Linked DNA regions of Homo sapiens: regions 1 and 2 are each linked to region 3. Evidence: fine-mapped expression QTL. A gene starts in region 3. Each other region holds a variant in brackets. All regions are shown on one strand. Distances are from middle to middle.

The links. PIP is the estimated chance that this variant, and not a neighbour inherited with it, causes the effect. A credible set is the group of variants that fine-mapping cannot tell apart.
Region 1: its variant is the best candidate, but not a certain one, in a credible set for the expression of TMEM154 in whole blood (INTERVAL, PIP 0.74).
Region 2: its variant is the best candidate, but not a certain one, in a credible set for the expression of TMEM154 in blood mononuclear cells (TOPMed, PIP 0.63).

What each region holds. Positions count from the first base shown.
Region 1 is chr4:152,648,793-152,656,976 of GRCh38, reverse strand. It overlaps TMEM154 (transmembrane protein 154), which reads left to right. Exons shown (of 7, transcript NM_152680.3): 2 at 4,050-4,310; 3 at 4,401-4,439. Among named protein-coding and RNA genes, the nearest start is that of TMEM154, 27 kb to the left of the region's middle. The variant TG/G (reference allele first, on the strand shown) is at 4,826.
Region 2 is chr4:152,616,672-152,624,855 of GRCh38, reverse strand. It overlaps TMEM154 (transmembrane protein 154), which reads left to right. Exons shown (of 7, transcript NM_152680.3): 7 at 1-6,228. Among named protein-coding and RNA genes, the nearest start is that of TMEM154, 59 kb to the left of the region's middle. The variant A/G (reference allele first, on the strand shown) is at 4,235.
Region 3 is chr4:152,676,264-152,684,447 of GRCh38, reverse strand. It overlaps TMEM154 (transmembrane protein 154), which reads left to right and starts at 4,451. Exons shown (of 7, transcript NM_152680.3): 1 at 4,451-4,578. The coding sequence starts at 4,515. It overlaps LOC105377495 (a long non-coding RNA gene), which reads right to left and starts at 4,363. Exons shown (of 4, transcript XR_939359.3): 1 at 4,144-4,363; 2 at 3,775-3,861; 3 at 3,308-3,373; 4 at 2,786-3,085. RefSeq lists enhancers at 4,368-4,677, 3,988-4,817, 7,885-7,974.

The sequences.
Region 1 (8,184 bases), 27 kb after region 3:
CTCTATCTCTTTGGTGAATTTCTCTCATTCATACCCTGAATTGTTTTCTAATTTTGGGTATTGTTTTTCTGTATCCTCTCATGGCTGGAGTGCAATGGCATGATCTTGGCTCACCGCAACCTCCACCTCCCAGGTTCAAACGATTCTCCTGCCTCAGCCTCCTGAGTAACTGGGATTACAGGCATGCACCACCATGCCCGGCTAATTTTGTATTTTTCGTAGAGATGGGGTTTCTCCATGTTGGTCAGGCTGGTCTTGAACTCCCGACCTCAGGTGATCCACCTGCCTCAGCCTCCCAAAATGCTGGGATTACAGGCATGAGCCACTGCGCCCGGCCTCTGAATTTACTTTCATAGGGGAGGAAAAAGTTCTCCCCTATGAAAGTAAGGTGTTTCTTTGGTGTTGGTTAGGTAGAGTGCTTTGGCTTTGATTCTGGGTATGTACATTAGTGTAGTCTCCATATGATTTATTCTGCTGGAACCAGTGCCAGTAGTATCTGTGGCTTCCCCAGCAGCTTAGGATGTGGTTGTTAGTGGAGGCTGTGGTGAAGTATTGCTGGGGACTAGGATACCAGGTGGGCCAGTCTTCAGGCCCCAGTGGTGACAGGGGTGGGTTGAGCATATCTGTCCTTGGATCCCAAGGCAGTATACACTGGCACTGGTGTTAGTGTGTCCAGGCAGGCTGGTTTTTGGGCTTCCAGGTGTCTTGCTTGGGTGCTAGAAATGGTAGTGGTTAGCCAGGCAGGTAGGCAGATTGACGTGGGTGTTGGCAGTATCAGTGGTAGGACAACACGCTGGGTCCCAAGTACCCATGCTAGTGTTGGCAGTGGTTGCAATGGACTGGGCAGGCCAGTCCCCAGGCCTGTAGCTGGTACATGAGGGTGGATGCCAACTATGATGGTGGCAGCAGAGTGGGTAGTCCCAACCTCAGGCATCTGGGAGGAATGCTGTGGTGCCAGTGGTGATGGACTAGACTGGGCTGGGCAATCACCAGGCCCCAAATGGCACACTCAAGTACTGCACTGGGAGAGAGCTGGCCTGTGCAGACCTGTTCTTTGACTCTCTGGTGGGGCATGCAGTAGCTGGCTGTAATAGGTAGGGGTGAAGCAATCCCCAGGCTGCTGATAGAAAGCTCAGGTGAAGGCAGCAGTGACTACACTGCTGCCTGCTACTGCAGAGGATGGGATTGCTTTCAGTGGGAGCAACCATAGGCAGCCAGCTGGGGCTATGCTTTGCTCATGCTTTGGCCCTAGCAGCAGCAGTTTATAGCAGCAATAGCTGAGGACAGTGGAGTTTGTCCTTGAGGCACATAAACATGTGTGAGCGCCCCGCTGCTGGCCAGGGGTGGGGGGAGGGGTGCTGCCAGCGGCTCCTACCTTGGCCCTGGCAGCAGCAGCCAGCAGCGCTGGTGGCTGCAGGCAGGAGCTCCAGAGACATGGAGATTCAGGGGCTGTTGGGCCCTAGGGCAGGATACAGTCTGGTGGGGGCTGGGCCCTCAAAGTGGCACTGTGCTGCAGCCACTAGGGCTCAGGGGTGTGTGGGACTCCGCATAAGGTCCCTCTCTGGAGCAATGCCATTGCACAGTGTACAGGCGCTCTCAGTGTTAGTCTCAGGGCCTGTGAGAGTTGAGGGGCTCTCCCGTGGCTAGGCTGCAGGAGTCTGCAGTGGAAATATGGACCACTACCCTTTCCCCACATTGGGGAGCTTCTCCTGGCTCCCAGCCAGTCTCAGCCAAGAAGGATGCCTTATTTCCCTCTCCTTCCGTGCTTTAAGTGTTGTCTATTACTACTCTGTTGAATTCCTGTGTTCTCCCTTAAATGATCAATTCAAAATGTAGCTTATCTACTCAGTATTTTTGTTATTTTTTGTGAAGAGGTGACTGCCAGATGCATCTAGTCAGCCATTTTGAAGCCCCTCCACTCTTCAAACATTGGTAGTTTTTTTTTTCAATCCTGCCTTTGGCATATACACATGAGAAACACCAGTGAGTTTACTCTGTAGTTTGTAATTGATTCTGATGGTTTGGGGTTGCATTTACTAAAGGGATTATCAAATGAATTCCCTGATGTGGGAGACTGAAAGTATTTATTCATACAATCAACACAATTAGATTCTTACTGTCTTAGCTCAGATACCATAACAAAATACCACAGACTGCAAGACTTAAAACAACAGACATTTATTTCTCACAGTTCTGGAGGCTGGGAAGTTCAAGATCAAAGGTGCTAGAAGATTTAGTATTTGGTGAGAACTCTCTCCCTGGCCTGCAGTCACCACCTTTCCGTATCCACATATGGCAAGGAAAGAGAACTCTGGTTTTCTTATCTTCTCATAGGAGCAATAATCCTGTCATAGGGTCCCCACTCTCATGACCTCATCTAAACCTAATGACCTCTCAAAGGCCTCACCTCTTAGCCCTAATCCATCACATTGAGGATTAGGGCTTCAATATATGAATTTGAGGGGAATGCAAACATTCAATTCATAGCAGTGACCAAACATTTTTATTGTTTCAACCAAAATCAGAGGACTCCATTGTCATGGGATTATGAAGATAGATGAACTATTGAATTGGCTCTGCAATGTCCAGTTTGATCATTCTGTAAAGTAATTGCCTAACCTATACCGCAGAGTGTGGTTTAAAGCAGCTGACTTCTGTATTTGCATAGTTCCTTTCACCTTAGAATAACTTTCTTGTAAATTATCTCATTTGATAAGTTTTCTGTAGCATCAACTTACGAGGTATTTTCCTCAGTTGGCCCCTTCTGAAAGGTAGACAACATTATACGATATTAGGACAAAGACCTTCAGCTTATCTTACCATGACTACTGCTTAGACAGGTAAGGAAAAGTTTTTCAGATAGTCATCAAGTCAGTAGTCCTTTCTCATCCTGATGGTTTTTATTTTCCTTTTCTTTTTTCTTTTTCTTTTTTTTTTGAGATGGAGTGTCGCTCTTGTTGCCTAGGCTGAAGTGCAATGGCGCGATCTTGGCTGACTGCAACCTCTGCTTCCTGGGTTCAAGCAATTCTCTTGCCTCAGCCTCCCAAGTAGCTGGGATTATAGGCATGCACCACCACGCCCAGCTAATTTTTGTATTTTTAGTAAAGACAGGGTTTCACCATGTTGGTCAGGCTGGTCTCGAACTCCTGACCTCAGGTGATCTGCCCACCTCAGCCTCCCATAGTGCTGGGATTACAGGCGTGAACCACCATGCCCGGCACAGTCAATTCATTTTCAAAGAATTATTTTCCATTGATAGGTAACCTTTTATTTAAATATTAGGACACAGACAGGCGCAGTGGCTCACACCTGCAATTCTAGCACTTTGGTAGGCTGAGGCGGGTGGATCACTTGAGGCATGGAGTTCGAGACCAGCCTGGCCAACATGGTGAAACCCTGTCTCTACTAAAAATACAAAAATTAGCTGGGTATGGTGGCACATGCCTGTAATCCCAGCTACTCTGGAGGCTGAGGCACGAGAATTGCTTGAACCCAGGAGGTGGAGGTTGCAGTGAGCTGAGATCATGCCACTACGCTCCAGCCTGGGCAATGGAGCAAGACTCTGCCTCAAAAAAAAAAAAAAAAATTAGGACACAGAGTGCATTTCTTTACATCTAAAAGTGCTGTATGGCATGTACTTAATTTTAGTAAATGTGAATTTAAATTTATTCAGACATTTTGTTAAAATATTATCATACCCTATAGGAGATGTCCTGTAATATCACATTACTTGGCTTGGAAAATCACCCTTAACATGAGGAAGCTTCCGAATCCACTTTGCTTAAGCGTATCTAAAATGTCTGGTCAATGCAAAACTGCCTACCTTTGTGCAAGGTTTTTCTCTGAGCTCTGATTCCATATTCAATACACTCCCAGCTTGAGCTTCATTTATGTTAAATCAATGTTCTGTGTCACACTTAGCTTGGAGGCCAAGTATAGTGGGTCAAATTTATCACAGAATGTATCTAGGAATAATTTAAAAATCATTGACAATATAACATACTAACTTTGTCTCCATGGAAATTTCAATTTTGTATCTATTCCCACAGGTAATTATGAGGAATTAGAAAACTCAGGAGATACAACTGTGGAATCTGAAAGACCAAATAAAGTGACTATTCCAAGCACATTTGCTGCAGTGACCATCAAAGAAACATTAAATGCAAATATAAATTCTACCAACTTTGCTCCGGATGAAAATCAGTTAGAGTTTATACTGATGGTGTTAATCCCATTGATTTTATTGGTCCTCTTACTTTTATCCGTGGTATTCCTTGCAACATACTATAAAAGAAAAAGAACTAAACAAGGTAAATATTTGGTGTATTTCCATTTCCAGAAAATTGCTTCATGTGTTAGTGAACAATCAATAAAACAAAATATTCTTTGCTTTGATACAGAACCTTCTAGCCAAGGATCTCAGAGTGCTTTACAGACATGTGAGTATTATCCTAAAACCTGCCTACAGGTGGGGGTGGGATTGGAGAAGGAGCAGAGATGTTTTAAAATTAAGCAACAAGGACTACATATAATAGTAAGTGATAAATAATACATTTCAATGAAATTTTCCAGAAGTGAATATATGCATATTCCTTTCTTTAAAAAAAAAAAAAGTTTAATTGAATTTCAAAATACAGGCACGCCTTGTTTGGTTGCACTTTGCTTTATTGCACTTTACAGGTATTGCTTTTTTTTTTTTTTTTAACAAATTGAAGTTTTATGGCAACCATTGCCTCAAACCAGTCTATTGGTATCATTTTTTCAACAGCACATGTTTACTTTGTGTCTCTGCATTACATTTTGATAATTCTCACAATATTTCAAA[TG/G]TTTTCAATACTACTATGCCTGTTATGGTGATCTGTGATCAGTTATCTTTGATATTACTGTTGTAATTGTTTTGGAGTGCCTGAAACCATGCTCACAGAAGACAGTGAACTTAATTGATAAACATTGTGTGTGTTCTGACTGCTTCACCAACAAGCCATTCCCTGTCTCTCTCCCTGTCTTCAGGCCTCTCTATTCCCTGATACAGAACAATATTGAAATTAGGCCAATTCATAACCCTACAATGGCATGTAAGTGTTCAAATGGAAGAAGAGTCACATATCTCTCATTTTAAGTGAAAAGCTAGAAATGATTAAGCCTTGTGAGGAAGGCAAGTTGAAAGCTGAGATAGGCTGAAAACCAGGCCTCTTGTGCCAAACATTTAGCCAAGTTGTAAATGCAAAGAAAAAGTTCTTGAAGGAAACTAAAAGTGCTACTCAGTGAACATACAATGATAGGAAAGCAAAGCAGTATTATTGTTGATATAGAGAAAGTTTCAGTGGTCTGGGTAGAAGATCAAACCAGTCACAGCATTCTCTTAAGCCTAAGCCTAATCCAGAGCAAGGCCTTAATTCTCCTTAATTCTACAAAGGCTGAGAGAGGTGAGGAAGCTGCAGAAGAAAAATTGGAAGCTAGCAGAGGGTGTTTCATGAGGTTTAAGGGAAAAAGCCATTTCTATAACATAACAGTGCAAGATGAAGCAGCAAGGACTGATGTAGGAGCTGCAGCAAGTTATCTAGAAGACCTAGTTCAAATCGTTGATGAAGGTGGCTACACTCAACCATAGATTTTCCATGTAGATGAAACAGTCCTCTGTTGGAAGAAGATGCCATCTGACTGGGCATGGTGGCTCACGCCTGTAATCTCAGCACTATGGGAAGCTGAGGCAGATCATTTGAGGTCAGGAGTTTGAGACCAGCCTGGCTAACATGGTGAAACCCTGTCCCTACTTAAAAAAAAAAAAAAAATGCCATCTAGGACTATTAATAGCTAGAGAGGAGAAATCACTGCCTGGCTTCAAAGCTTCAAAAGATATGCTGACTCTCCTGTTAGAAGCTAATGTAGTTGGTGACTTAAAGTCAATTCTTGTTTACCATTCTGAAAATCTGACAGCTCTTAAGAATTATGCTAAATCTACTCTGCCTGTGCTCTGTAAGTGGAACAACCAAGCCTGGATGTTAGCACATTTGTTTATAGCATGGTTTACTGAATAATTTAAGTCCACTGTTAAGGTCTACTGCTCAAAATACAAGATTCCACTAAAAATATTACTGCTCATTGACAATGCACCTGGTCACCCAAGAGGCCTGGTGGAGATGTACAAGGAGACTAACGTTTTCATGCCTGCTGATACAATATCCATTCTGCAGCCCATGGATTAAGGAGTCATTTTGAATTTCAAGTCTTATTGTTTAAGACATACATTTTGTAAGGCCATAGCTGCCATAGATGGTGAGTCCTCTGATAAATCTGGGAAGGAATCTTCTGGGAAGAATTCACCATTCTAGATGCCATTAAGAACATTTCCGATTCATAGGAGGAGATCAAAATATCAACATCAACAGTATTTTGGAAGACGTTGATTCCAAGACCCATGAATGACTTTGAGGGGTTCAAGACTTGAGTGGAGGGGTCACTGCAGATGTGGTAGAAAGAACAAGAGAACTAGGATAAGAAGTGAAGCCTGAAGATGCCATGGAATTGCTGCAATCTCATGATAAAACGTTAAGTGGCTGAGAAATTGCTTCTTCTGAATGAACAAAGAGTTTTGTTTTTTTTTTTGAGATGGAATCTACTCCTAGTGAAGATGCCATGAACATTGTTGAAATGACAACAGAGGATTTAGAATATTCCATAAACATAGTTGGTAGAGCAGCGGCAGGTTTTGTGAGAATCGTCTCCAATTGTGAAAGAATTCTATTGCAGATAAAATGCTATCAAACAAAGCATTGTATGCTACAGAGAAATCTTTGTGAAAGAGAGTCAATCAATGTGACACATTTCATTGTGATCTTACTTTAAGACATTGCCACAGCCTTCCCAACCATCAGCAACCACCACCCTGATCAGTCAGCAACCATCAACATCAAGGCAAGACCCTCCGCCAGAAAAATAATTACAACTTGCGGAAGGCTCAGATGATCGTTAGCATTTTCTAGCAATGAAGTATTTTAAATTAAGGTATATACATTGTCTCTGTAGACACAATGTTGCACACTTAATAGGTTACATTGTAGGAAAAACATAACTTTTTATGCATTTGGAAACTAAAAAATTAATGTGACTTGCTTTATTGCAATACTCACTTTATTGCAGTGGTCTGGACCTGAACCTGCATATTTCTGGGGGATGCTTTTCTACTGCTGCCATCTTTGACCCTAATCCAGATGAGGATCCTGTATAATTTTAGCCAATAAGCCAGTATAACATTTCCCATCACTGGGGAAAGAGAAAGGCTGATCAAGGAGTGAGTCAGATTAGGGTTAGGGATGGGAAGGCTAGAGGCCTTGGGGTCATCACCACCAGAAGAGCATTCTTTCATCTATATTTCTGTTACAGATTTTATTTTCTCCCCCACCCCACATCCCAATTTGATCTTGAAAAGTCCTGGAGGAAGCATTGTTCTTATTCCCATTGAAGCTATGCTAACTTTTATAATCAAATTCTTCAACTGTCTAAAGATTACTAACATCAATCCGAAAACCAATTATAGAAAATTCCCTCAGTCAGAGACCCACTTTGAGAGTATTCAGTTGTGATTCAAGGAGCATCACGTGCTAGGAGTCAGGGTAGTTCTAGGTCTAAAGCAGACTTGGGTACTTTTGGCTTGTGCCAGTAAAACTCGCTCGGATTCGATTTTTAAGTTAAAGCCTTTATAGTCTTTCCAAAAAGTTACTCAAAGGATAGGAACGTCTCTAATACAATACATAGTCATACATGTATACAAAACTCACTTTATGTCCCTCACACCCATGACAGGGCACCTCTGGCTTTGGGGCCATGCCCTTGTCCCACATGCCCACCTCACTGTCTCTGTGCCAGAGGAATCTTTCACAGTCAGCAGATGAGGCAAATGTGAGCTGGGGAAGAAGCCCCGAAGAGTATTTCCTTTCATGGCAGAGGCCCATATAATAGATTCCAAAGAAGTGGGAAATACATGTTTCTCCACTGCTTGAAATTTCAGGACTTCCTAATAACATGGTCATATGGAGGCTTCTTTCTAAGCTTAAGAAAAAAAAGCAAACAGAGCTTTTTAAATTTTTTAAAATTCAGGAAAAGTCATAATTTCCTTCCCCAAACCATGACTGGTTTTACCTAATGGACTCAAGGGGTGGGGGGATGTTGGAGGTATCCACTCAC
Region 2 (8,184 bases), 60 kb after region 3:
GTCCAGAACAACTTCACATATAGCAGCATTTCTGCTATGTGACAATGACCAAAAGAGTTCCTGTATATTAGTGTCTAGTGGAATATTTCAAATTGCAGAACCCAGACAACCAATTGCCTGAATTATTATTATTTTTTGTTTTTAGCAACTCTTTGGCTTTATCTTGATACTGTCTTGTCTGGCACCAAAGTTTTATTTCCTTCTTAGTCCTCTTGGGGATAGTTTTTGGGTGTTTTTTTTTATTTTTCTTTTTTTGAGACGGGGTCTCATGCTGATGCCCAGGCTGGAGTGCAATGGTGTGATTATGGCTCACTGCAGCCTCAACTTCCCAGGCTCAGGTGATTCTATTACCTCAGCCTCCCAAGTAGCTGGGACTACTGGTGTGCACTACTAGGACTGGCTAATTTTTTGTATCTTTTGTACAGATAGGGTTTCACCGTGTTGCTCAGGCTGGTTTTGAACTTCTAGGTTCAAGCAATCCTCCCACCACAGCCTCCAAAAGTCCTGGGATTACAGGTGTGAGCCACCATAACTGGCTGGAATTATTTGTACCTGGACCTTGTGTTTTGTTTTTTTGCCCTACTATCTTTTCTAAATAACATATCATGTTCCTGAGATAGCAGTATATACAATTATGTAAAATAGAGCTTTATATGAACTCTGTACATGCTCTAAGCTCTTTTTGAATGATATTTTAAGAAGTTTCTAAACCAAAGTGCTTAAGAAAACATGAAGATGTTAATTTCATGAAGACTGTACAAGTTTAGAAGTACAATGTAGACCTGTTTAAGACAAAGGTGGATGGGCTTTGGGGTTTTTTTTACAATTGGACTTCAGGTACAGAAGGCTTGGGTAATGGTACTCCTCAGTTCATATCACCTTATCATTGGCCTTTAGTATTTTGTAAATAAGTAACTGGACTTTTATGAAAAGCATATTCTTAACAGTTTCCCATTTCCTTTTTTTTTTTTTTTAAGATAGTGTTTTGCTCTGTTGCCCTGGCTGGAGTGCAGTGGCATGATCTTGGCTCACTGCAGCCTCCACCTCCCAGGCTCAGGCGATCCTCCTGCCCCAGCCTCCCAAGTAGCTGGGATTACAGGCGTGCACAACTGCATGCACAACTAATTTTTGTATTTTTAGTAGAGACAGGGTTTCGCCATGTTGGCCAAGCTAGTCTCAAACTCCTGGGCTCAAGTGATCCGCCCACCTCAGCCTCCCAACATGTTGGGATTATAGGCATAAGCCACCATGCCCAGCCAGTTTTCATTTCTTTGGTCTGCATGTAAAGGACTAAAGAATGATATGTAGCTACTACACTGCAGCAAACAACATTTTTCCAGTGTACAAATCAGTGGAGAGTAAGCAATGTATTACTCTGATGTCGGTGAAACACCTCAAATTATAAATAATGCCAGGAACATGTGAAAACTCCACATGTTTAATAAATGCCAGCTTTCAGAAAAAGCAGAGATTATAGGTATTCAACAAGTTAAACAATAATCTGGTAGATTAGTAATAATTTAACACATGTGTATCTTGTATTTAAAGTTAACTGAAAATTATGTAAAAAAAAAAAACACTGTGTTTGACTTTCTTTTGTTTTACAAGTGATGCAGAGTATCTGCTGAGAAGGTCAGTTAGATCATCTGATGTCATATTTGCCACTTAGCTTTTGTCCCAGCAGCATATAAATTCTACCTTGTAAGCCTCATATTAGAAGTGGTCCCAGCCAGGCACAGTGGCTTACTTCCCAACACTTTGGGAGTCCACGGCTGGTGGATTGCCTGAGCTCGGGAGTTTGAGACCAGCCTGGCCAACATGGTGAAACCCCATTTTTACAAAAATGCAAAAATTAGCCAGGTGTGGTAGTACACACCTGTAATCCCACCTACTCGGGGGGCTGAGGCCCAAGAATCACTTGAACCCAGGAGGCGGCAGTTGCAGTGAGCCAAGATTGTGCCACTGCACTGCATCCTGGGTGACAGAGCAAGATTCTGTCTCAAAGAAAAGAAAAAGAAATGGTCCCATTGCTACGGATTAGAACTAATTTGTAAAACTATCAGAATTTTAAGACTGATTAAAGGTTTTAGGTGTTTTTCTCCTACTTTGCATACTGAGAATAATATGTATAGTATTTTTCCAGTATGATTTACAATTTTATAAATGTCAGTATACATATGTATATATAAATTATTCTCAACTCCATTTTTTTTTAAATAAAATAAGTACATGTTTGTGTGCTAAATTGCTCATTTGGCAGTGATAGATTGAAAAACATTTATAAATTTAAAAATAAAGCACTATAAGATATGAGGAATGAATAGCTTCTATGTGAATTTCTATGTAATTAATATCAATATTTAGAATAAAAGTGTATTTGAGGATAAGATATTTGTTTACTAAAATGTTTTATTTACTAAGAGTAGAGGTGAATTATGCATCTTTCTAAGGAAAAGTTCTTTTAATTTCTGTGTCTATGAAAAAGAATTCATAATTCATAATTCTTAATTGCCCTCTTTTGATCCATATAATTCTTTAAATAAACGAAACAATACCAATTCAAAAAGGGGCCTGCTTTGTATAAAATTGTCTAACCTAAAAATTAAGTAGACTTTCTGCATATCTAAAATATATTATTACACATTCTTGTCTTTATTCTTCCTTACAAAACATTTTTAAATGAAGGAATGAAATTTTAATTGTTTATGAGAATATAACTTTTAAAAATATTTCTAGTAGGCCAGGCATGGTGGCTCATGCCTGTAATCCCAGCACTTTGGGAGGCTGAGGCACGTGGATCACCTGAGGTCAGGAGTTCGAGACCAGTCTGACCAATATGGTGAAACCCTGTCTCTACTAAAAATACAAAAATTAGCCAGGCATGGTGGCTGTCGCCTGTAATCCCAGCTATTCGGGAGGCTGAGGCAGGAGAATTGCTTGAACCTGGGAGGCGGGGTTTGCAGTGAGTGCCAAGACTGAGCCACTGCACTGCAGGCTGGGTGACAGAGTGAAACTCCATCTCAAAAAAAAAAAAAATTCTAGTAAAAATGGAAAAATCCACAAGAAAACCTCTTTTTTTCCTGATTACTCACTTTTCTTCATGCCTTTAATTTTAACCTCATCTCACACCTTGATATTAGAAGAAAGTAAGGCTGAAAGGCAGATTCATAAGTTGTAGATAACATGAAGACTTCCTTGAATAAGGATTTATTCTTTCGGCTCACAAAGACCAGTCAGTATTATTGACAAACAACAGGCAGGAAGATTTCTCCTAAAAGTCTCAACTAAAGTTAAACCTGGTCCATTATGGCATCAATCTACCCCTAGAAACTGATGCAGAGTCTATTTCCTCCCTGTTTTAACTAGAACTTAGCCAGACTGGAGACAGCATGGACCCAAAGAGCATGCAGTCCCACAGAGTTAGGGAAAGGATGCATCTTGACCAGCATTCATCATGTGGATCAGTTAGGAATTAAGTTCCTGATTCAAGGTGAGCTCATATGGCCGCTCCCTGGTCATCTAGGACACAAGTTCCTTCTAACTCTTCCCCACCTTCATTAGTACAGGGCTTCTTTCCTGTGTTGCCACATGATCCAAAATGGTGGTTGTAACTCCAGCATGATATTCACAAGAAGGAAAGAGAGGGAACCAGCACAAGGGTGAGCCTCCCAAGTAGGTCAGCCACTTTTAAATAGCTTTCCTGCCAGCCCAGTGAAGCAACTCTGCTTACATCTCATTGGCCAATCTCTGCAAGGCAGCAGGGAACAGTCATCTCTATGGTTGGTACATTATCACTTTCAACAATAAGGGATTCTGTCTCACAAAGTGGTGGAAGAATATTGGGTATCTGAAGAGGTAGCCACCCTGGCCAGAAGGTGCTAAACACTAAACATACATCATCTCATTTTAATCCTAGTAATTACTTATGAGGTAGGTTTAGAGAACTTATACCTTGTTCCATGTCTTTCCAACTCCAAAGCACAAGTTTTTAATCACTGCACTGCACTGCATCCCCAATAACTAGCCGTAGGAAAGTGTTTTAAAAGGCATCACTTGGCGGGGTGCAGTGGCTCACACCTGTAATCCCACCACTTTGGGAGGCCGAGGCAGGCGGATCACCTGAGGTCAGGAGTTTGAGACCAGCCTGGCCAACATGGTGAAACCCCCGTCTCAACTAAAAATACAAAAATTAGCCAGGCATAGTGGCATGTACCTGTAATCCCAGCTACTCAGG[A/G]GGCTGAGGCAGGAGAATCACTTGAACCTGGGAGGCGGAGGTTACAGTGAGATGAGATCACACCATTGTACTCCAGCCTTGTCTAAAAAAAAACAACAAAAAAACAAACAAAAAAAAGTTTCAGTCATTGTCAAGGATGCCTTAAGGTGAGCATAGCCTGAGATAAGAAGTAACAGAGGCTGCAGGCTGAGATAAGAAGGAACAGAGGCAGTGAAGGCAGGACCCTAGGCCCAGAAGTAATGGTCTATCATGCTGAGAAAAAAGCCAGGGCTTAGAATAGGGGTGATAAGTAAAAAGCCTAGTTTTAAAATCTAAGTGCTGGTAAAGGTTTGGTCACTAGGTGAAAAAATAAAGTTCCCACTTACTAGAGCTGACATAAACAGCATATGATCCTCTTTAAGGTTGCAGTGGAGAGGCATGTCCAGGGACTCTCAAGTTAGAGACAGGTGTGTTTAGTGCTAGAATTGGAAAGACATTCAAGCAGACTGGCATGTTGCCTCTTCACAGCCATAGTCGTGCTGGCTTGCAGGATACTCCAGCCTAGAATGTATATAGGAGTGTGGAGAACAGCAAAATCAGCATTGCTTGGGATTCAGCCTGAGCTCAAGTGGCCCACCCCTGGAGGCATCCAGTGTTCACACTTCCCAAGAGAGAAAACCTGATTGGATGGGTGTTTCAGCAGTCTATTGCTGCTTAAACACCTCAAAACTTAGCAGCTTAAAACAACAACACTCAATTTATTTTTCACACAAATCTGCAATTTGCATGAGGCTCAGTGCAAATGGTTCAACTCTCTCCCACACGGCATTGGCTGGGCAGTTCAACTGGATCTGGGGGTCCCACTTTCAGATGACTCACATGGCTGGCAAGTTTGTTCTGGCTGTCGGATAGGAGCCCAGCCAAGCCTGTGGTCCAGCGGCCTTGGCTTTTATGATGTGGGCCTCTCCATAGACTCCTTGGGCTTCTTCACAGCATGGCAGCTGAGTTCCAAGAGCAAGTGTCCCAAGAGAGCAAAGTAGAAATGCATAGTATTTTTATAATTTAGACTCAGAAATCACATCACATCACTTCTGCCATACTTTATTGTTTGAGACAGTTACAAAGTCTACCTAGGTTCAAGGTGGAAAGGACATAAACCCCACTTGTCCTTGGAGGCGTGTCAAAGCCACATTATGAGAAGAGCAAGTGGGATAAGGGATTTGTTGCAGGCACCGTTGGAAAATGTGATCTGCCCAAATTGGTGTGTCTTCATGCAATATCGAGGAAATATATTAGGTAGTTTCGTGTCAAGGAACATTGTGGATATTTGACCTCCCTGAATCCCAGTGCCTATGTGCTCTTTGGCTTGGACATAGACCCCTGGTCCAGTAGTCTGTAGTAGGTGGTAGAACTAGTTTTACCAACTACATGAGTCATGAGCCATGGGACTGAATGGGTTGTAGGTGGATCAGACACATAGAAATGTATGACTACTCTCAAAGCATGAGGTTAAAATGGGAGCAGATTAGACTGAGCACCTTGAGGATAGGGATCAGTCTTACTCATCTCTGTATCCTGAAAAGTGCTTGGCGCTACTGCACGCTCCATAATAACAGAAAAACCAATTATTTAATGAGCTAGGAGTTACATATCATCTTTCCTTAAGTACCTAATCAGTCTTTATCATCAGTGAGTGCAGAACTCAAATATGGTATTGTTCATCTTCCATCACCATTTTCTCCCAAGTTTCCTGGTTTAATTGCATTTTCCTCACTTTCCATCTAATGGATCCTGATGTCATTCTTTATCTTTATTTCATATTGTCCTATTGTGTGTATTGTATTGTATTTTTAGCTACATTAAATCCAATATGGAAGGAAGCAGAGAACGATCATAATTGAACTAACAAGCAAGTGGAGGTGGAGAGAAAGTGGCCCCAATTTGGAAGGTGAAGGAAAACTGGGGATGGAGCCTAACTGATCATTAAAATGCTCGAAGCAGCTCTTTCCAACCCAGATCTGAGCTTCTCTTCTTTGCCCTCTGGAGGGTCCACAGAGAAAGGAAATACAAGTTTTATTAAGAAAAAGAGGAAAGCATCTATTTTAGGTGATAATACAAGCACAGAGAAGGATTGTTTCTTCTCTGGGCAGGAAGACAGATTCACAAAATAAGAGGCACTGTAAATCCTTCCTGAGATGTTCCCCAGCACCTCTGAATGTCACTGAGACCAACTAAGCCAGTTAATGGGCTAAGACCCACTTACCTCTTAACTCCATGAAATCCATGCAGAAATACCTCCATCTTGTTACAAGTGCCAATTGATTGCTTTTTACCTGGCATGAAGGTGCCTTTCTGTTCATAACCCACCCTGTCCCATTCCTAAGGGAACCCCATCCTTCCTCTTGGCTTGTACTGTTAGACCCTCTGCCTTCCGGCAACTGAGATGAAGATTCTAAGGAAGCAGCCACATGAACTCACGTCAGGATCAGTGTTCCAGGGGCGTCCAGAGCATGAGCAAGAGAAGCAGGGTGGGAGGATGTGGGTTAAACAGCAAAAACTAAGATTCGTTGTTAAAACCAAAGGGGCAGGGGAGGGGTCAAAATCTGGAATATAAATTAGAGGTGACAGGGAAACAGAGGCAGACTGGAAAGGGGCAGGAATGAGGTGAGGAGAGGCGGTTTCCACAACGGAGCTGAGCTATGCAGTCTGCCTTTATTGGCCGCTGGCTGCACAGTGAACAGGGGTCAGTGTGGCCTGAGAGTGCAAGGCTGGGAAGGACACTAGATAGCCAATACCTTCTTTTTGTCAGCATTGCCCAGTTTCCCTGTTAGGTTAGAAAGCCCAGTTCCAGAGAGACAGTGTGAATCACAGACCCTAAACTTGGACCCACACTCCCACAGCATCAGGGCACACATGCTGACTCCCATAAGAGCCGTGAAAATGCTAGGAGCTAACTGGGTCAACCGCGGGAGGGGGCAGCTCCACCCATACATTTGGCCTTATCCAGAGCCAGTGACATGAGGCCCAACAGTTTTCTTTGCATTAAAAAAAAAAAAAAAAATATATATATATATATATATACACACACACACACACACACACACACACACATACGCATAGTGTTATATATATACTAAATAAATACACTTCTAATTGTCTCTCTGTATGTGTAATAGTGGTGTGTTTGTTTAAACAAGACTCTTGGTTCCAGTGAGAAAATGTCCAACTCAAACTAGTCCAGCCCAAAAGGAAACTTATTGGCTCATGTCATCATGCTTGGAAAGGGCAAGAAGTTGCCAATTCCAGGGACAACCAGAACCAGGTAAAACTGACATGAGTAACAATGAGACCAGGGACTCAAACCCCATCAGGCTTCTCCAGTATTTTGTCTTTCATTCATTCTCTGGGACCAGCTTTCTCTACAGGACTGTAATTATTGCAGCTGGGAGCTCCAGGAGTCTTCTGTCTTTACCACCAGAGTAGAAGGGAAAATCCTTCCCTGGGTCTAATATTTAAAAGCTCCCCCCCAACCACCAGAGGAATTTGATTAGACTATCTGGGTTTTATGCCTAACCCAGTAAAAATGCGTACAGGGATGGAGTGGGCCTGACACTTTTCTCTACTCCTGCAGGTGGGTGAGTGGATGGGTGGGTGGTGGGTGGTTAGGTGGTTGGCAGTGGGGAGGAGATACAGGGGAAAGCAGTTTCTAAAGGGAATCAGAGTGCTAGGAACAGATGCCGGGCACTCGGGAGCAGCCAAATGCAGAGGTATCCACCATGCACATGTTTCTTTCCCTCTGTACTTACTTATCCACATCTAGAGAGTCAGAAGTTGAGAATGAGCCAGGTTCTCTGGATGGTGGCTTTACTAATGCTTTTCATTTCCTTCTTTGTGCATTTTTAATATTTTCCAAATGTTCTACAACACATACATATTGCCTTGTAGTATATGTTTTTTTTAAAAAAAAATAG
Region 3 (8,184 bases):
GAGTTTTATCTATCATGCATAAAAATCCCCTCAAACATTACAAATACAGAGTTATGGACCTCAGCTCTAGGGATTCTGACTCAATAGTTCTGGCATAGGGTCCAGGACTCTGAATTTTAACAAGCTCCCCTGAATAATTCTAACATAGGTGGCCCCCTCCAGTGCACTTAAAAAAATACTGCTGTAAAGGGATTTTCCCCCCATTTACTCACTTCTCTGTTCTCTGTCCTAAATGCTGAGGATAGACTGGAGAGCAAGACAGAGAATGCCATTGCTCTCAGAGGGCAATTAGAGGAGGACTGTGGATGTTCAGCAGTGAGCTGCTGCTCTGTCTCTTAGATACGCCCCAGCACCCTCTAGCCCAGAGCGCTGCACTGTGTCCCACGTGTCAACTGCCACTTTAGCTCCTAATCACAATCCTTTACAGTTTCATGTTGTGGTGACCAGGCCATCTACCTAGGCCCTGGAAGACCCTGTCATGGAAGCCCCTAGGATTATCCAAACCTTGCAACAGTTTCTCTGAAGAGTATTGGCAGCCAGGATGCAGAGACAGAGACCCCCAAGGGTGGAGATAGGCTGGTCAAGATGAGCCCGGCTGTGCAGGCTCCAGCTGCCCCCACTTCACGCGCAGTGAGATGGCTGTCAGCCCCTCTCCTGGCTGTGGCTTCTCTGCACACGCTAAATGTCAGCCTAATCCTTCTGCCCCAGCCTCTGCCCTGCCCGGCTACCTCTCTGGGCATTCCTTCAGAACCTGGGACTTCAATCTGCCTCCTCCCTGCACCTTCCTAGCTGGCTTCAGAGTGATACACAGGCCCCACCTGATGTTACTATTATCTTGTTTGAGGGCCAGCCCACAGCCAACCAAACACCCAGGAACCATCCACTGTCACTAGCAGGCATTTAGACAGAGAAAGAAGCTCCAGAACATTTGTATGTGAGTGTCGATGTGAGAGCGTGTGTGTGTGAGCACGTGTGCACATTTCTGAGTATGTGAGTGTGCCTGTGGGTGTGTGTTGGGAGACTGGATGTACAAATGGACAGTGGCCAAATAATATATGCAAAAACAGAACACTGGCTCCCAGCTTGCAGCAACCAACCCCCAGAAACCAATTCACTATCTTCAGTAGCAAGTCTAGGAAGCCAGCCTGCTAGAAATCAAACTTGTAGGAGGTCAGAGCACCTTCTGACAGATTCCCTCATTTTTATCTCCTCTTCTGATCTAGCAGCAGCAAAATATGCACCTCCTCACCAATCACTAGAACTTGCTGCTGGTTCCCCATGCCAGCAGCCTCCCTTCAGGCCATACCTGAGCCTTCCTTTTGTTTTTTTTCTGAAACGACTCTTGCTCTGTCGCCCAGGCTGGACTGCAATGGTGGGATCTCGGCTCACTGCAACCTCCACCTCTCAGGTACAAGTGATTCTTCTGCCTCAGCCTTCCGAGTAGCTGGGATTACAGGTACCCCGCATCATGCCCGGCTAATTTTTGTATTTTTGTAGAGATGGGGTTTTACTATATTGGCCAGGCTGGTCTTGAACTCCTGACCTCAGGTGATCCGCCCACCTTGTCCTCCCAAAGTGCTGGGATTACAGGTATGAGCCACTGCACCCGGCCCTGAGCCTTCCTTTTATCGACTGTAAAGTTATCTCATTCCTTGGCCTGCCTTTGGGTCTGTGCCAAAATGCAGCGATGGTGGCTGACTCTCTTGCTATGGCAAGCTCTGAATTAATATCCATTGCTTGGTTTCATTTGCTTGTGCTCATTTAGTCTTCATTTATTTCCACCATGTGCATGAATGTGTGTGTGAGAGACAGCTGTGTGTGTATCTGAGTGCATGTGCACATCTGTGTGTATTGGGAATGGCAGGATCGGAGTGTGAAGAGGAACGCGGAGAAGGCTGTCTGCACCCACTGGAAGATCCTATCATTTATCTGGATTTGTTCCCTTGGAGTCCCTCTTCTTTTATGGCCCATGGAGTGGTGGTGGGGAGGGGGCGGGGGGAAGGGAGGGAGGATAGGATGAGAGTCACTTCTGTAGCACAGACAGTTGATTGTAAAAGTCACACTCCTTTGTGTAAAGTAATAAAGAGTCCCTAGACATGGTTCCCAGTGTCCCTTCCTGCCCTTCTGAACATGATGAAGCACCATACTTCTTTCCTGCTTTCAGACAGCCAATGGCAGGCTCCAAAGTGGCATTACCCCTGCCTGTGTGCCACTCACTCTGAGGTTCCCCTGTGCCCCACATCTGGGACTGAGGCCCTGACTTCCTGCCACCAGTGCATCGGGATTTAATCTGAGGCTGGGTGGCTATTTGCCTAAATTAATGGTTGCTAAAATTAAAACAGAGGTAAATAGCCCTTTACCTACCACACAGCCTCCCTGGGATTTTAACTGCAGCAAAGAGATCATTGAGGTGCTACCATTTTCTGATCAATCATGGTAATTTTCTTCCCCCTAAGATCAGCTTAATCATGCTAAGGGTCTTAGAGAGCACAGGGGTCAAAAGAAAATTACATGGTTGGGCAGGATTTCTCTGCAGCTCCAGTTTATTTTGTACCTCACTCTGATTTAGTGTTGCACTGCTCAGAAGCAATGCATAGTGCACTTGTTGAAACAGTAATGAACTGTTTGGCCATGTCATGGGGCTCAGCAGAGGTCCACAGAATAAGACAGTCTGTGGTCCAATCCACAGACACCTGACTGCAAAAGCTTCCACAGGGAGCTGAAGTTTAAGATGAAAGAAACGAAGGCTGACAACCTTGCCCTTGACAAACATTTGCCTCCAGCCTGGGATTCAACAATGTTTTAATAACATTTAATAATATTTTAATAGGGCATAAATGGTAAAATGGAGAGAACTCCCAAGCCCTGGGCCTGCTTTCTTGCACGTGTGTGTCACAGCTGCAGAAACACGTGCTTGTACAGGAATAATTGCCACCCCAACTCAGTACCAGCAGGTCTTGGAGCCCGTGATCTATTCACATGCTCAGCAAGTGTTTAATTAATAGTTCTTTCTCTGTTGTTTTCAAATCAATCACCCAGTTTTGAGCACGTCTATTTTCTCCTGCTGTTTGTTCTGTATTGTCACCTGTGGTGCAAAAAGCATATTTTATCAAGAATTGACTTAATTGCCAGTTTAAAACATTAAAGTGCATACTGTAAATCCATTAACAAACTGATCCTTACATGAATCACCAACCTATTTCTTGTGAATAATAACTGAGATAAACAGTGACTAATGACATTGAAAAGCAGCAATGCATTAAAGAAAAATTAACAGCTATGTCAGGGGCTAAGGAATTCCAGTCACCTCATACGTTTGCACCAACCAGATCACTGAAGACAAACGACGGGAAGTCATGACTCAGATGGTGATCTGCAGGGAAAGGTTTAGAGATGAGATGTGTCTGATGCCTCAACACTACCCCTCTCTCCATCTGTCTGTCTCTCTTGGCACCACGATTATGAAACTGCATTCTGAATGCTTAGGCCCTAAACCTAAACCAAGGGAAGGACCTCCAATAGAACACCCAACACACACTAATCTCCACTGTATACTAGACACAACCTTTCTGTATTGTTTCGATTGGATAGGATTTCTACCATTATTCTATTTCGTTTCTGTCCTGTTTTGTTTGTTGTCTGAGAACTTGATTGTCAAGTAAGAAGGAAGGAAGGTGAGATGCAGATTCACCCCTACCTCCACCCTCAGAGCATATTCTCCTTTGGAAATGGACCTTGAAAAGATCATTTCTCTCTGGGGAAGCAGAACATAACCTTAAGGTGTGGGTGTGGCATCCACCTCCATCTGGCGTGGGCCTTGGTGGGAGGAGGGCATTCCAGAGTGGAGAAAGGAGAATGGACCTGGCGGAGAGAAGTGGTCTGGCAGTTTTCTGATGATGCAGTTGTCCCTGCTGTCTGGGCCTGCGCTATCCAACACAGCAGCCACTAGCCACTTGGAGTTATTAAAATTTTATAAAAATTCAATAAAATTTAAATTCCATCAGCACTAGCCTCAGTTCAAATGCTCAGTGGCCAATGTGGCTGATACTGTATCAGACGGCGCAGACTTGGAACATTTCCATCAGGGCAGAAAGTTCTACAGGACAGCTTCTTCCTAGGGTCTAGGCAGCCCCGGAGCCTCACCTGGGGGATAAGCAAAATCACAGAGTGAGAATGCGTGTGGTCCAGGACCCCTCCCAGTCCCAGATACCGAACGACATCTGAGCAAGGGACTCTGTTGCCCCGGGGACGGTTTCAAAAGCTGGAGGCCGGGACTCCAAAGGGCTGGAGAGGCGTGATAATAGAACCAGTGCTTCAACAGCAACTTCTCTTTTGCAATCCTTGCTGGTCTGACAGGCTCCTGCAGAATTACATCACTTCCTAAAAAACAGGCACACACCTCTCCTTCAAGTCAGCACCGACCCAAACAAGCAGGAAACAGGAAATGTTCACGTTTCAGAGAGGCTGCAGCCCGGCGCAGCATCCTGAGCGCGCCTCTGCCGAGGCGAGCGGACATGCAGGCTCCCCGCGCAGCCCTAGTCTTCGCCCTGGTGATCGCGCTCGTTCCCGTCGGCCGGGGTAAGCCGCCTCCACTTCCTACTCCTGGGAAGGAGGATCGCAAAAGCTGGTAGGGTGCCCGAGGCTACAGAACTCTGCCGGGGAGGGTGACACCCAGAAAATCTAATCCTTTCTGTGAAAGAAGTGGAGAAAATTAGAACTCCTTTTTTTGGGGGGTGGGATGGAGAGGGGACTTCGCTTTCGCTGCAGCTGTCTAAACTGGCTACAGCTCTCACTTCATTTAACCCTCTTTCAGTCTTTGTCTTCCAGGAAGTGTGCGTCCCTGTAATTTACCAGCTTTAATGGGCATATTAAGAAAACCATAAACTTTTTGGCAGTTTATGTAAAAAAAAACAAAAGCTTCAATTGGCTGAAACAGAGACATGATTAATTTGCTTTTTATGGTGTGGGCTGAGAAGTCTGCTGATTCCAAAATCTCCTGGAAAAACTGGGGTGTGAAAATTTACTACTAGAAAGCATACTAAAGAAACGACATAAACTTAAAAAAAAAAAAAGGAAACGGGAAATTATCCGAAGAGCTACCAAAGAGCTATGTGTTAGAGGGTAGCCCTCTAACACATCAAGTAAGGTCTTTCATCTACTTTTATTGCACCTTGTTACTTTTACAGATTTTTTTTTTGCATTGATTGTTACTAATGAAGATTTGTTTGAAAAAGTAATATGATTGGAACCAATCAAAGGTATTGGAAAAAACAATATTGAATCTCATTATTATGGGCTAAAAGCAACAACTGATTTACACCCTTGCCAGTTGCTACAACAAGCACAAGCACCTTCAGCTGCCTCTCTTGTTGACTTGCCTTTGGGCAAATACACTGGCTGCCCATTGTTTCTGTCAATGAACACCGACTGCTTCTAGTGTAGGGCAGTATTTACCAAGCAAAAGGAAAGTTCTCAAGCTACAGTTCTTTAGATAGAATGAGGGACATCAGCCCCAACCTAACAGATGTGACAACTTCCTGGAGGTCAGCAGCCAGCACCCAGCCACCCCACTCCATCAATTTCTCTTCCCCTGGGTGTTCTCCATGTGGTCCCCCAGGCATCTGAGGTAGAAAACAAAGTGGAAGGCAAATCATTCCAGCTGAAAAGATGTCTGGTTAAATTGAGTTTAGTGTTCAGAGTGGGTTTGGAAGTTGATGTGTTGTTTTATGCCCAGTGTTTTGGAGCTGGAAGGGAACTTGAAGATGATGCAGCTCAAACCATATTGGGCACACAGGTGAAGAAACAGAGGTGGAAGAAGGGAGATGTCTGGGTCTTGCTGCTAGTCAGCTCTTCTGGCTTCTACTCCAGAGTTCTTTGAGCTCCTCCACCCCCCACCACCACTGCCCCCCTCCCCCCACCGCCGCCCCGGAACCAATCACTGTCTCTGCCAAGAGCTCTGGAACCTTTCGTAGTAGGACATCAGGGAAGAAAAGCCTAGCCATCCTCCTTCCACCTCTTCTATTGCACAACACTGCCACAGGTGCCTCAAACACTCCCTTAATACTAATTCATCTTGCCTGAACTTTTTTTTTAGCTTCTAAAAAATGATTGAGTCCTAGTGTCTGCAATTCAGGAGATGCAAAAAGAGAATCTGAAGAGACTTGGTTAAAGTTGCCTTTCTGACACCTGAATCTGATCGTGCACATCTTCCCCCTTAAGGACCCCTCATTTATGCCCCTTCACTTGTTCCTCATTTTTGCCCCTTAGACTCTCACTGCAACCTCCTTCCCAGTGGCACCTCCTTCCAGTTGTCGTCCCCCTCCGTGGCTCTTGCCTATAATGAATACATTCTTTTTCCTACCTAGCAAATTCTTGTATCACCTTAAAAGTATCAAACTAAATGTGATCTCCTCCTTGATGTCTCCTTTCTCTGCCCCTTCCCTGGAGCTCTACTCGTACCTGCTGCTGTGCCCCGATAGACCTAAACTTCTGCTAATCACTTTGAACCATAATTGTGTCCATGCCTCCCAACTGGCTGTGAACAGCTCCAGGGAAAATCCTCTGTAGTTCACCTTTGACTTTCCAAAATCCTGTAAGGGCTCAGCATAAATGAGAAAATAATTGTTGATAAATATGAAAATCATCCCTAGAATGGATATGAGGCTGATTACAAAAAAAACTGATAGCTCCTGAAAACAGGTAGTGTTGGAATGTAAAGAGAAGTCAAAGATGAAAAGTTGCATTTCAGTAGAGTGCAGGGATTACCTAAATAATCCAACATGCTAATTGGGCCCTGCTGGGATTCCCAATGTCTGAAAAATGCCCACTTGCAAAAAGCTGTTGAATAAAAGCTATGACTTTGAGATGATTCATCATGGAAAAGGTGATTTTAAATTAAAGATTTTTAAAATTAATTAATGTACACTACTTTTAGCTAATAGTGCCTAAGGCTTCAGGATATGAGTTACTTTCTAGGTGTCACAGGTATATTTCCTTGAATTCTTCAAAAAATACCTGGGGATGTTTGTTAGATGAATCCAACCTACTGAAGGGCCTGACACTGTTTGTGAGTATACTCTGAGATGTATCTCAAATTAAGCCTTTATTAACAACGAGCAGGCAACATGAGATAATATCTGCAGTTGCATGAGACCAGCACTGTTACCTCTGAGTCAGCGACCTCTTCTCTTTTTAGAGATAGATAGCCTGACATAGAATTGAGTTCTACCCCAAGAGAAATAATTCACTTGGAAGTCACCAGGAGAGAAATAAGAAAGCAGCTTTTCTGGGACTATAATGGAATGGGTGAGCATAGTTAAAGGAAAGCTTGGGCCTAGGTGCCTTGGCCAGTGTAGGATCCTAAGAAAGTTCAAACTCAAGGAGATGTTCTGCTCATGGAGTAAAGTGGGGCAGGGGTGTCCCCGTCTCTGTTCTTTATGCCCTGTCAGTGTCAGCTTAATACTATCAGAAAACCAAAAGCAATTTCCTAAATACCAAAAGCATGGGATTTGTTAGTTGCTAAAAGCAGAATTGTTGCAGAAGGGAGAGCTGAAGGCCATGAGGCAGAAACAAGGATGCTGTGACTGTTTTGGTGGCCAAACAGAGAGGAATGGGAGATTTTCTGGGCTGGTTCAGAAGAATAAGAATTATATAAGTATTGGATGAATCTTGACAAGGAGAGAAAGAATAGTAGAAAATACTAGCTATGTAAGTAAGGCTACACATTCTGACACTGTGGTATCTCATATCTTATTTTAATGAACACGGCTGACATCTGCTGTTTCCTGGGACAGTCCCAATTTCAAGTATTAATAACAATAGTAGCTAACATATATAGAACTCATTATAGGTCAGGCACTATTCTAAATGCTACATTCACTAACTCATTTAATTCTCAGAACAACCTTATAAGGTGGGCACTATTATCCCTGTTTTTACATTTGAGAAAACTGAGGCACAGAGAGGCTAAGTGACTTGCCCAAGGTCACACAGCTAATTAGTGAATCTAAGTAAGATTCTGCCTCAGGAGTCCATTCTCTAACCATACTCCATACTACCTCTGGGTTTCCAAGCTCTGCCAGGCTACTCGTTTAGTTTTGGGTTTAGAAAACTGTGGTTGTTGAACCTTTCCAGCTGTAGGTGCAGCACAGAACTCTTGGCTAGGCTTTGCGGTGGCTGCATGTC